3 linked regions of the Homo sapiens genome follow. The protein of the gene in region 3 purifies or fractionates together with the protein of the main gene of each other region. This does not show direct contact. Each region holds a gene or a part of one and is shown on either strand. Other genes may lie near its edges. The genes, in order: NCAPH, SMC2 and GPR137B.

Evidence for each region.
Region 1: the proteins of GPR137B (region 3) and NCAPH purify together in Homo sapiens (affinity purification with mass spectrometry; 3 studies listed by BioGRID and IntAct, with this or other methods). This does not show direct contact.
Region 2: the proteins of GPR137B (region 3) and SMC2 purify together in Homo sapiens (affinity purification with mass spectrometry; 2 studies listed by BioGRID and IntAct, with this or other methods). This does not show direct contact.

The regions. Positions count from the first base shown.
Region 1 is NC_000002.12:96,359,668-96,363,317, reverse strand, and holds part of NCAPH (condensin complex subunit 2), read right to left. Parts: intron 3,176-3,650; coding exon 3,069-3,175; intron 2,731-3,068; coding exon 2,608-2,730; intron 1-2,607. UniProt on the Homo sapiens protein: Regulatory subunit of the condensin complex, a complex required for conversion of interphase chromatin into mitotic-like condense chromosomes.
Region 2 is NC_000009.12:104,097,184-104,100,833, reverse strand, and holds part of SMC2 (structural maintenance of chromosomes protein 2), read right to left. Parts: intron 2,389-3,650; coding exon 2,266-2,388; intron 1,191-2,265; coding exon 1,152-1,190; intron 742-1,151; coding exon 631-741; intron 446-630; coding exon 401-445; intron 1-400. UniProt on the Homo sapiens protein: Central component of the condensin complex, a complex required for conversion of interphase chromatin into mitotic-like condense chromosomes.
Region 3 is NC_000001.11:236,141,384-236,145,466, reverse strand, and holds the start of GPR137B (integral membrane protein GPR137B), read right to left. Parts: upstream 2,929-4,083; 5' UTR 2,845-2,928; coding exon 2,431-2,844; intron 1-2,430. UniProt on the Homo sapiens protein: Lysosomal integral membrane protein that regulates the localization and activity of mTORC1, a signaling complex promoting cell growth in response to growth factors, energy levels, and amino acids.

The sequences.
Region 1 (3,650 bases), on a different chromosome or scaffold from region 3:
TAATACAGGCACTTCCAGTCACACAAATTTAAAAGTTATGCTTATACTATGCTGGAGTCTATTAAGTGTGCAACAGTATATGTCTAAAAAACAATTTACATACCTTAATTAAAAATATTTCATTGCTAAAAAATTATAATGATCATATCAGCCTTCAGTGAGTTGTAATATTTTTGCTGTTAAAGGGTCTTGCCTCAATGTTGATGGCTACTGACTGTCAGGGTGGGTGGTGGTTGCTGAAGGATGGGGTGGCTGCGACAATTTCTTAAAATAAGACAACAATGAAGTTTGCTACATCAATCAACTCTTCCTGTCACTAAAGATTTCTCTGAAGCATACAATGCTGTTTGATAGCATTTTATCCATAGCGGAGCTTCTTTCAAATTCAAAGTCAATCTTTTCAAACACTGCCACTGCTATATCAACTAAGACTATGTAACATTCTAAATCTTTTTTTTTTATCATTTCAACAATGTTCACAGCATCTTCACCAGGAGTAAATTCCATCTCAAGAAAATGTTCTTTGCTCATCCATAGGAAACAACTTCTCATCCATTCAAGTTTTATCAGGATATTGTACCAATGTAGTCACATCATCAGGCTCCATTTCTCATTCTGGTTCTCTTGCTATTTCTACCACATCTGCATACCACATCTGCAATGACTTCCTCCACTGAAGTCTTTTTGAGACAGAGTCTTGCTCTGTCACCCAGGCTGGAGTGCAGTGTACTGTAATCTCAGTTCACTGCAACCTCCACCTCTTGGGTTCCAGTGATTCTCGTGCCTCACCCTCCTGAGTAGCCAGGACTATAGGCCTGCACTACCATGTCTGGCTAATTTTTGTATTTTTAGTAGAGACGGGGTTTCGCCATGTTGCTCAGGCTGGTCTCAAACTCCTAGCCTCAAGCGATCCACCCACCTCGGCCTCCCAAAGTGCTAGGATTACAGGCGTGAGCCATCGTGACTGGCCTCCACTGAAGTCTTGAACCCCTCAAAATCATCCATAAGAGTCAGAATCAACTTCTTCCAAACTCCTGTTAATGTTGATATTTTGACCCCCTCTCATGAATCACAATTTTTTTTTTGTTTTGCTTTTCTGAGATGAGGCCTCACTTTGTCCCCCAGGCTGGAGTGCACTGGCATGATCATAGCTTACTATAGCCTCAGGCCCCCAAGTAGCTAGGACTGAAAAAAAAAGAGTATTTCTATTGAAGTAAACAATATTGATCAGAAAGAAAAACATATCTTGGTTAGTTTATAAAAACAGAATGTGAGGCCAGGTGTAACGGCTCACGCCTGTAATCCCTGTACTTTGGGAGGCTGAGGCAGGATGACTGCTTGAATCCAGGAGTTCAAAGTTACAATGAGCTCCAATTACACCACTGGACTATGGCCTGGGCAACAGAGCAAGACCCTGTCTCTAAAAAAAAATACAAAAAAACAAATAGAATGTGTAATATCAGTCAATTCAGGGAAAAAAAAAAAAAAATATATATATATATATATATATACACATATATATACATATATATGTGTATATATATATATGTATATATATATATATATATCATTAAAATCTTGTGGAAAAACAGGCAAAATAAAGAGGAAAGTATAAAGTCTTAATACACTCCATGAGAGTAGGAGAACCAGTAATGCAAGTAAGCAGAGGATGTGAATGGAATGGTTTACACGAACCACTGCTTACCCTGTCAGCAGGGACATGTGAGAAGAGCCCCAGGCAAATGAAGGAGGCAGTAATCAGGGTGCAACACCAGGTAATTCAGAAGGCTCCATGTGACAATCTCAGAAGGAGCCCCAGCAGCCTGTAGAGCCCTAGGAGACTTCCTGAGGATGTGAGCCCGTGTGTCACCTTGGGCTCGCTTCGACTTGGATCATGAGTAAGGCAACCTCACTGTATAAAGCAATTGGTGAGTAAATCCACAACTTCAATGAGAAAGCCAAGGAATCAGGTGGGCACAGTGGCTCACACCTATAATCCTGGCACTTTGGGAGGCTGAGGTGGGTGGATCGCCTGAGGTCAGGAGTTCGAGACTAGCCTGGCCAACATAGTGAAACCCTGTCCCTGTTAAAACTACAAAAAATTCACTGGGTATGGTGGCAGGCACCTGTAATCCCAGTTACTTGGGAGGCTGAGGCAGGAGAATTGCTTGAACCCAGGAGGGAGAGGTTGCAGTGAGCCAAGACTGCACCATTGCACTCCAGCCTAGGGCAACAAGAGCGAAACTCTGTCAAAAAAAAAAAAAAAAAAAAAAAAAAGGAGAAAGCAAAGGAATCAAGAAATAACTTAAAAACTGTTGAAACTTCACCAAAAAACTACACTCACTGCCCCCCTGAATTTCAGCATGGAGGCTTCAGTATCCAGCATTCTTGCCAGGTAAGGTATTTCCAAGTGTTTACTGTGTGTCCATCATATAAGCCTTTCCTTTTAGCTTTCTTTGCCTTATCTATTTGATTTCCTGGCAACACGCTTTGGCTAACACATACCACTCCTCACATTCTCCCTTTTCCTCAAAGGCACTGCCTAACTGTCATACTATCAGCCACTTGATACCTTGTGTGCTTAAAGGAACCAAGAAATAGGCTTACCCTGGTGCCTGGTTTGAGGTGAAGCTGGACCAGAGTGTCAACATTGTAGTTGAAATCTGTAGGAAGGGTGGTAGCTCTCCAATTCTGGTTCTCCAAAGTGGACTTGGTCAGAATAGTAGCAGCCTATTAATTTTTTTAAAAAAAGTGTTTTAGGCATTTTAACAGTGGGCAAAACATCTTACTTTTTTTAAAGCAGTCTGGGAAGGGTTTGGGCAGCATGAGTCTACCATCAGTCTCACAGTTCTATGTAAAAAAGTGATTTTGCTAGCATTATTCTTTTTATTCTAAATTTGATTCTTTCTGCCACTGAGTTTAGGACTATTTCTTAATAGTGCGTTTAAGGAACAAGGAAGAATGAAACCATCTGTTTGCTCTAACAGTTAAATTTATACGGAATTTTAAAAAATCACATCTGAAAGGGAAAAACGAGTAAGCACAATCCTAATAAATTCAGTACAAACCTTTGTTTTTCTAAAATATACATCAAAGTCAATATCATCTTCAAAGTCAATTTCAAAATCTTTTTTTGTACTCTTCTTTTTGTTTTCTGATTGGGAAGGAGCATCTTCTGCAGAGTGAACACAGACGTCAGCACTTCACTTCTGTGGCCTAAACTATTTACTCATTTCACAAGATCTGCTGACAGCCTTATCAAGGCTTATCAAAACCACAAGGCAGCATTGTGTCTGAGCATCACAACAGTAGGAGTGCTCAATCACACACCCTCTTTTCATCCTAAACTTATAATTTGTGTTTTGGCTAAGAAAACACATCAGAAACATATGCTTGGCCAGGTGCAGTGGCTCATGCCTGTAATCCCAACACTTTGGGAGGCTAAGGCAGGAGGATCACTTGAGGCCAGGAGTCGAGACCAGCCTAGGCAACAAAGCGGGATCCCATCACTATGGAAAATTTAAAAATTAACTGAGCATGCTGGCATGCCCTTGCAGTCCCAGCTATTCAGAAGGCTGAGGTGGGAGGACGCTTAAGCCCAGGAGGTCAAGGCTGCAGTAAGCCATGATTCACCACTGCACTTCAGCCTG
Region 2 (3,650 bases), on a different chromosome or scaffold from region 3:
CAAAATACCTTGATAGCAATAATTATAGTGATAGCCCCTGTTATCCTGGAAATTGTTCTCAATGAGGGTGTCTAAGAGTGCCTTATCTTTAAGAAATGTTGTTCCAGTCAATGCTAACTAACTAGGAAAATCCAGACTTGCTTAGCTTAAATAAAGTATTAAAATTCGGCATACCATTTTCTGAAACTATAAAAATTACTCTCCAATATCCTATGACTTAGCAGATAAGTGCATATCCTCTGTAAGCAGAACGCTGAGTTATGGAGTGCCAACTCTAATTCCTTATCTCATCGCAGGAAAAAAACCCCCAAGAAATAGTATCACTATGTGTATGATTTTGGATACATTGCTGACTTTGAAAGACATTCTAATAGATTATCCTCACATATACAGAATATACCTCTTTTAATTTTTGAATGGTTGGAGTAATCTCTTCTTCAAGTATCTGGAAAATAAAGAAAAATCAGTATTTTCGCATGTAAAGTATCATTAAAATTTATTTGAAAGAGAAGTAGCAGGGATGACTATGGAAAACTGAACCAAGGAAAAAAATTTTTCCCTCTTTACAGCAAAAACTCTACATGCAAAATTACATTCTTCTCCGAAAATATTTTATATGAATTAAATTACCGTCTTAATTTCTTTCAGCTTAGCCTCCTTTTTTTCTATAGTTTTCTGTGCAGCTATTTTTTTGTATTCATACATCCTGGTTCCAGCTGCTTCTTCTATCATGGATAAAATCTGGAATGACAATTTTATTAATGTTTAGTATCCAAGACAATGTGTCCAACTGGAATTTACATTAAATATATCATTTTTGCCTTGACCTCACTAAACATCTTACCAAAAGTTGGCCCAAATGAACCATATAGGTTAAATATAGTAATTTCACACAAACCTTTTCCTGTAGGCTTTTTCTGTAGGAATGAATTCTGACATGAAACACCAGCTAAGCAAGACTCCTTTATACAATCAAAATCAATTTTAATATTTGGGCATAGTGCCAAATATTACACAAATATACAACTGTCTTTACTAATCATTCCCAAATAATGTCTCCAAAAATTTTAATAGAATATTTAAAAATTGTCTGAAAGATTAAAGTAATATCTATACCAACTATTTTTAATGTCCATAAATAGTACTCTTACCTCTGGAGGTTTCATATTCAATACTTTTGTAATTCGGCCCTGAAAATAAAATAGCAAACTTACTAAGATAACAAATTACAGAAAATGTTTATCTGTACTGCCATTCATGTTTATCTAGACTGAAGCTGTTGTATCTCAATATACCAATCTTTGGGGGGGTCTTTCCTCTATAATTCTTCTATGATTCTAGAATTTTGGAACTTTGCTATTCACTTTCTCACCAGTGATACAAATTATGGAAGTTATGAAATGATACAAATGAAATAATTCATTAAATGATACAAAGTTAACAAGGATCATGTTTCTGAGACAGTTAACATTAAGTAGAAATATTCAAATTTAAAACAGGTAAATATAAAAAGAAATTTCAGCATAATTAAAAAACTTTTAACATTTCTTTGAATGATAACCCTCCAGGATAATTTCACAAAACAGATGACATACTTCTAGGCCTCAAACAAAATACAATATTTTACATCAATGCCAGAAAACCATTAAATTTATTCATTACCAAAAACAAATAAAGCAAAACACCTGCACACCCAGGTCTCAGAGAATTGTATTACTAGAATGTAGATTCATTTAAAGTAAAGTTTCAACTATGAAGGTGTGTAGTGGAAATATTTTTATTTTGGTCCCACTGAGATGCTCCCATCGACTTTACTATAATTCTCTCAAACGGCAGCTGGATGGGTCAAATGAAGTAATGTAAATGTAAGATAAAATCAGCCTTTACTCCTCATTTGTGTGAGTCTCTAAGAAAATTACTCAAGCTTTTATACTTGAAATATTAAGATGCATTAATCCAATAATTTAAAAGGATATATTATGGCTTTTTTTTTTTTACAGTTAACATGTATTGTTCTTTTAGTGACAAAACAAAAAGTCAACAAAAATTACTTCTAAACATTCTAGAGGAGTCAAAGGTCTATAATCCAGTAGAATATATCAGTGCAAGTAACTAAACCATATTTCTAAACAGATGGCCGGACACAGCACAATAGTAAATAAAAAGTATAAAATCCAAAACATAAAGTACTTCTATTTTAATTGCTTAAAAGTAAAAAATGTCGAAACTATTACGAAAGTGATATAAAGACCTCAAACGAAATACCTGCATGATGAGAAAGTGAGGGTTGTTAACATTAAGGCCAACAGAACAGAAGAGATCCTGTACTCTGGTGTTGTTGGCATTGACTCCATTGATTAAATATTTATTTCTACCACCAATAACCACCTATAAAAGAAAGCAATTTTTTAAATATTAATGTACATGCACACCTTGTGCTAGGATAAACTAAGTATATTAGCTTACGTTTATTTGTTCTGTCTGACTAGCAGTAAACAAAACCAATTCTGCATAAATAGTGGAACAAGTATGACATGGTCAAAAACGCTAACTTGAGTCAGGACAGCTAGTATCTAATGCAAGTACTTTTGGTAACTAGTTATGTAATTACACACAAGCCTCTTACCCTGGCCTGCACCAGACTAGGTCTCCGAGGTAACTTCTAGCTTTATGTTTCCAAGTATATGTAAAACACACTTTCCTAGTTACTTTCTTTCTGTAATTTTTCTAGAGGCTTTCTCTACTTTTCAACAGGAATAGATGTCAGACAAAGTAGCTTAGTATCAATTCTTGACAAGATTCAAAAAGCTATTAATAAAGACATGATTTATGACCATTTAAAAGAAAGGGTAATCATGGAGCTTCAGTATGGTTTCATTAAGTCATCCCAGACACCATACTCTACTATCACACTTAAATTGTCATTTATTGGGTATGATTGTCTCATCTACCAGATTGAAGTCCTTAAAGACAAGCTCTGTTTCTCATTCTTCTAACTGTACATCCCAGTACATTCAAGAACACCCAATATACATCAACTATTTAATAAATATTGAATAAATGTTAGTTCATTTCTTTTCCTGACAGGACTACTAGGTTGGTAGTTCATATATTAATGTATTTGAAGACCCTTCTCTGACAAAAATTTTATAATTTTGGTGAAGATACAAGTTTATGGCCTGAATGAGGACAGGAACAATTAGGTAGATTATTAGTAAGAGACTTAGTGACAGTTCCTAAAGGATAAATATTTGATGGATGCCTAATGACATGGAACAGGATTCTGTCCTAACGTGGCCTACGCTTCTTTTTTTTTTTTTTTTTTCAACCAGAGGCTTCCATTAAAATAGAGGAGAAAATCTGTAAGTGATAAATGATAAGATGGACAGTAAATAGGAGTTGACAACATTTTTAAAAACAAAATCTTGGGCCAGGCGCCGTGGCTCACACCTGTAATCCTAGCACTTTGGGAGGCCAAGGCGGGCAGATCATGAGGTCAGGAGATTGAGACCACCCTGGCCAACATAGCGAAATCCCGTCTCTACTAAAAATACAAAAAACAAAAAAAAATTAGCCGGGTGTGGTGGTGGGCACCTGTAGTCCCAGCTACTCAGGAGGCTGAGGCAGAAGAATCTCTTGAACCCGGGAGA
Region 3 (4,083 bases):
GAATCATTTGAACCCGGGAGGCGGAGGCTGCAGTGAGCCGAGATCGAAAGTATGCTTTCTTAAACATACTTCTTAATTGTTAGCTGTCAGCCCCTTCTCCAAAAATCTCATTTACTTGGTCTGAGATGGGGGCCCAAGCAACAGTCATTCTTAAAGCTCCCCACTTTAGGTAATTCCAATGGTTTGTGTAAGAGAAAGAGGGGGTGAGCGGGAGAGGAGGAGAAGGGAGGCAGAGCTGGGTTGGCGACAAAAGGCTTTATAACTCCCCAGAAGTATCACAGTTTTGTCACTAAGCCAGAAATGGCTTTGTTCTGCCAGGCTCTGAGATGCCAGCACTCAGAGATGGAGACATGCCACCTTCTCCAGCCAGCCACCCTGTGCCCTCAGGCGAAAAGCCTTTGCTGTGGTGCCCGCAGACCTGGGAGATATAAAGAGTACAGGGCCGTGACTTTGGGCCCCTGGGCCGGAGTGGCTCTGTCTGCCTGGTCACTGTTTCCCTTGCTCAGCATTTACTCACCAACCAGCAGATGGTGCAGAAAATGTGCAGCCCGGCCCCTAATCCGGCTCTAAGTTCAGAATTTGCATGTGATTACCAGAGAGCTGTGGCAGTTCCCTGCATTTTCCTCTTCCCCCACTGCCCCCCAAAAAGGGGACAAATATAAAGAGCTCAACGTGCAATACCACCATTGTCACAGTTCTTAGGGTAACATCACCTCACCTGTCTTTTGCATCTTGCTAGAACCACCTCATTTCAATTACAAAACCCAAGTGTCTGTGCAATGCAGCCGACTGCCTGAACTGGTTTGCAGGTTTAAAGGTTGTACTTGGACAGGCAATACGCATTACTCTCCGACCGGAAAATATGCTGATGCGCTGGACTTACAAGAAGTCTGAGTGTAGACCCATTTTTAAAAGATTATACTATCTACAAAATATCACATATGCTATTTTTTAGCCAAAAGTACTTCTTCCATATTTTCAGTCAGTGGCTTCCACTGTACCAGAGCAATCCTTTTCCTACTTTGTTTTTTTTGTTTGTTTGTTCGTTTGTTTTTTTGAGACAGGATCTAGCTCTGTCACCCAGGCTGGAGTGCAGTGGTTCAATCTCTGCTCACTGCAACCTCCGCCTCCCGGGCTCCGCCTCCCACCTCAGCCTCCTGAGTAGCTGGAACTACAGGCGGGCACTACCACACCCAGCTAATTTTTGTACATTTTGTAGAGAGGAAGTTTCGCCATGTTGCCCAGGCCGGTCTCAAACTCAGGGACACAAGCGATCCTCCCGCCTCCGCCTCCACAATGCTGGGATGACAGGCATGCGCCACCGCATACGGCCTCTTTCTTTTTTTAAATAAGTGACTTTTTCTCAAAAAAAAAAAAAAAGACACTTAAAAGGAATGAGATGCCTGCTTGCACAGGGTTTCTGCCCATCCGACAGTTCTGAAATTACCCTCACCAGGTGACACCGTTGACGCCTTCCCCTTCGGCAGAGTCCTAGTGAAAATGGACATCTTAGTGCTTGGAAAGCTAATGGGAATCAGAGATGATGATGACGATGATGACGGCGGCACCGCGTTATTAAACCTTTGTGCAACGCTATACAAAGTATTTGCAAAGTGCTCAACAATTACTGCACTTTCATTAAGTCAACCATCAGCAGTAAAGCAGCAGCCAAGTTAATTCACATACTCTCCCATTAGCTTATTTAATAATATGCCCCATAAAGTGATTTTTGTGTGGCTGTAAAAGAGCCCCAGTCAGCTTTTATGGCCTTTTCTTGGGGCCTCTCAGATGAGCTCAGACAGTAACTCTGATGAGCGGCAGCAGCTCGGAGCTGGGTGTTACCCCAGCCTGCTGTTTAGCAATCCGGTGGAATGAGTTAGTAAGCCGCAGTTCTGTAGAGCTCCTAAGCCGGAGGTTCAAAACATCTCATCAAAACCAACATGGTCTCACCCTGCCAACGCTCAAAACAGCAGTGTCAGGCCCAAATCTGGAGGCCAACGTGCAGAAGACCTTTCCAGGCCGGGAGTTAGGTGCCTGGGGAGGCAGGGCAAATTCTAGAGTTCAGGCCTCCCTTGGGGGCACACCTTCCATCCGTACTAACTGGCGTGTGCAGGCGCTGCTGCTTCGCGCTGCGCACGGAGAAGCGCCCCGAATCCACCGCACGATGCGGAGCCAGGGGCAGCGAGTGAGCGGCGGCCTCCAGCCCTCCCCTGCCTTCTCCTTGCCCCTTTTGGGAATGGCAGGGGGTTTCCTATGACAAATGCCCGCAAACAGGACAGGGTTCGGACGACCCCAGAGCCGGCGCCTTCTCCCTACACTCTCAGCCCTAGGGCCGGACCCGCCCCCGCGGCTGCCATCGCCCCTGCCTCGGGCGCCCCGCGGGGACCACCCCGCCAGGTGAGCGCCTCCAGGAGCCTCTCTGAAACTCACCTGCGTGAAGTACAAGTTCATCAGCGTGAGGGTGAAAAACTGCAGGCACACAGGGAAGCAGTAGAGCAGCCAGAAGACGAAGGGGCTGAGCGAATTGGCCGCCACGAAGTCTTTGAAGTAGAAGGAGAAGAGGACGGTCCGCAGGGAGGCCCAGAAGAGGCAGAGAAAGAGGAAGACGCTCTGGTAGCTGAGCCGCTTGTGGCGGTAACGCAGCACCAGCCAGAGCTGCACGTAGATGAACACGAAGAGCAGCGCGTAGAACACGGTGTAGACGACGGTGAGGCCAAGCTTCACGTAGGGGGGCACGGCCGGGGTCAGCGTGGGCGGCAGCGAGTCGTTGCGGGCTGGGTCCCACGGCGGGGTCTCCATCGGGCCGGGGGCGCTGCCGCGCGGCCGGGGACGCTCGGGCCTCATCGGGGCTCACGGCCGCCGCCGCCCCCGCGGGGGTCTCCGCGCATCGCGCTCAGCCTGCAGCCCCGAGACTGGAGGAAAGAAAACAAGCCGCACTTCCTCCCCCGGCACCACATGATTCACTGGGACGGCCTTTGTCTGCGATTGGCAGCGCCGCGCCCGCCGCCCCCGCGCGCCGACCGGCCCCGCGCGCCCCCGCCCCGGCCCGCGCGCCCCCGCCCCGGCCCGCGCGCCCCGGCCCGCCCTCCCCCGGGCACCGCGCGCCTTCGCCCCGCGAACCCCGGCCCGCCCTATCCTCGCCACCGCGCGCTCCCGCAGTGCGCGCCCCCAGAGCCGCACGCCTCCTCCCGGCCCCCTCCCCATCCCCGGGGCCGCGCGCTCCCAGACTGCGGGCCCCCAGAGCCCCGCGTCTCTTCCCCCCTTCCCGCCCCCTCCCCATCCCAGGGGCCGCGCGCTACCCGTCCCCGGCCCCTTCCCCATCCCCGGGGCCGCGCGCTCCCGCACTGCGCGCCCCCAGAACCGCGCGCCTCCTCCCCGGTCCCGGCACCGCGCCGCGCGCCCCCAAAACTTCCCAGCCGCGCCCCGCGCCTCGGGGGATCGCACTCGTGGCCTCGCGCATTCTGCTGCTGATTGCTTGTTTTGCAGAAGTTAATTCCTTTATTTAAAAACAAATTTAAAAAAAAAACTTTACAAGTCCTTTCCGTCCCCCCCTTTAAAAATAAAACTTTACGACTCTGTGGCTATGAACTGGCCGGCGTCTGGAATGATGTTTATTTCTAAATGCAGACATGCCAAAGACAGGGTTCGTATTTTTGAGGTCAAATTTGTATACTGAGTGAGGAAATAGACGGTGCCTGCGGCTGCTGCCTCCTCTGGGATGCAAGCTGGGCTGTTTTCTCCCGGAGAGCCTCACGCGCTCCCAGCGCCTCACCTCCCAGCGATGTAGCCGGTGCCGGGAGGCGCGCGGGCCGCGGGTCAGTGGATGGAGCCCACTGGGCTTCAGAGAGAAGTGGGGCAGCTGACGGCACACGGCCCCCCTTGTCCGATCCAACCCATGCCGAAGGAGGGTCTGTCCCCGCCACCCGAGAGCCCTTCTCTTTTGCTTTTGCTGAGCAGCTCGCTCCTCGAGGCTGTACAGCGACTTAGTCTTTGCCCCGGGGCACCACGCCACCCTTGTCTTGGGAGAGCTGGGGAGTGCTCTGGGAAAAGAGGGAAAGCCGGGCGCCCTCTGGAAACATTGCT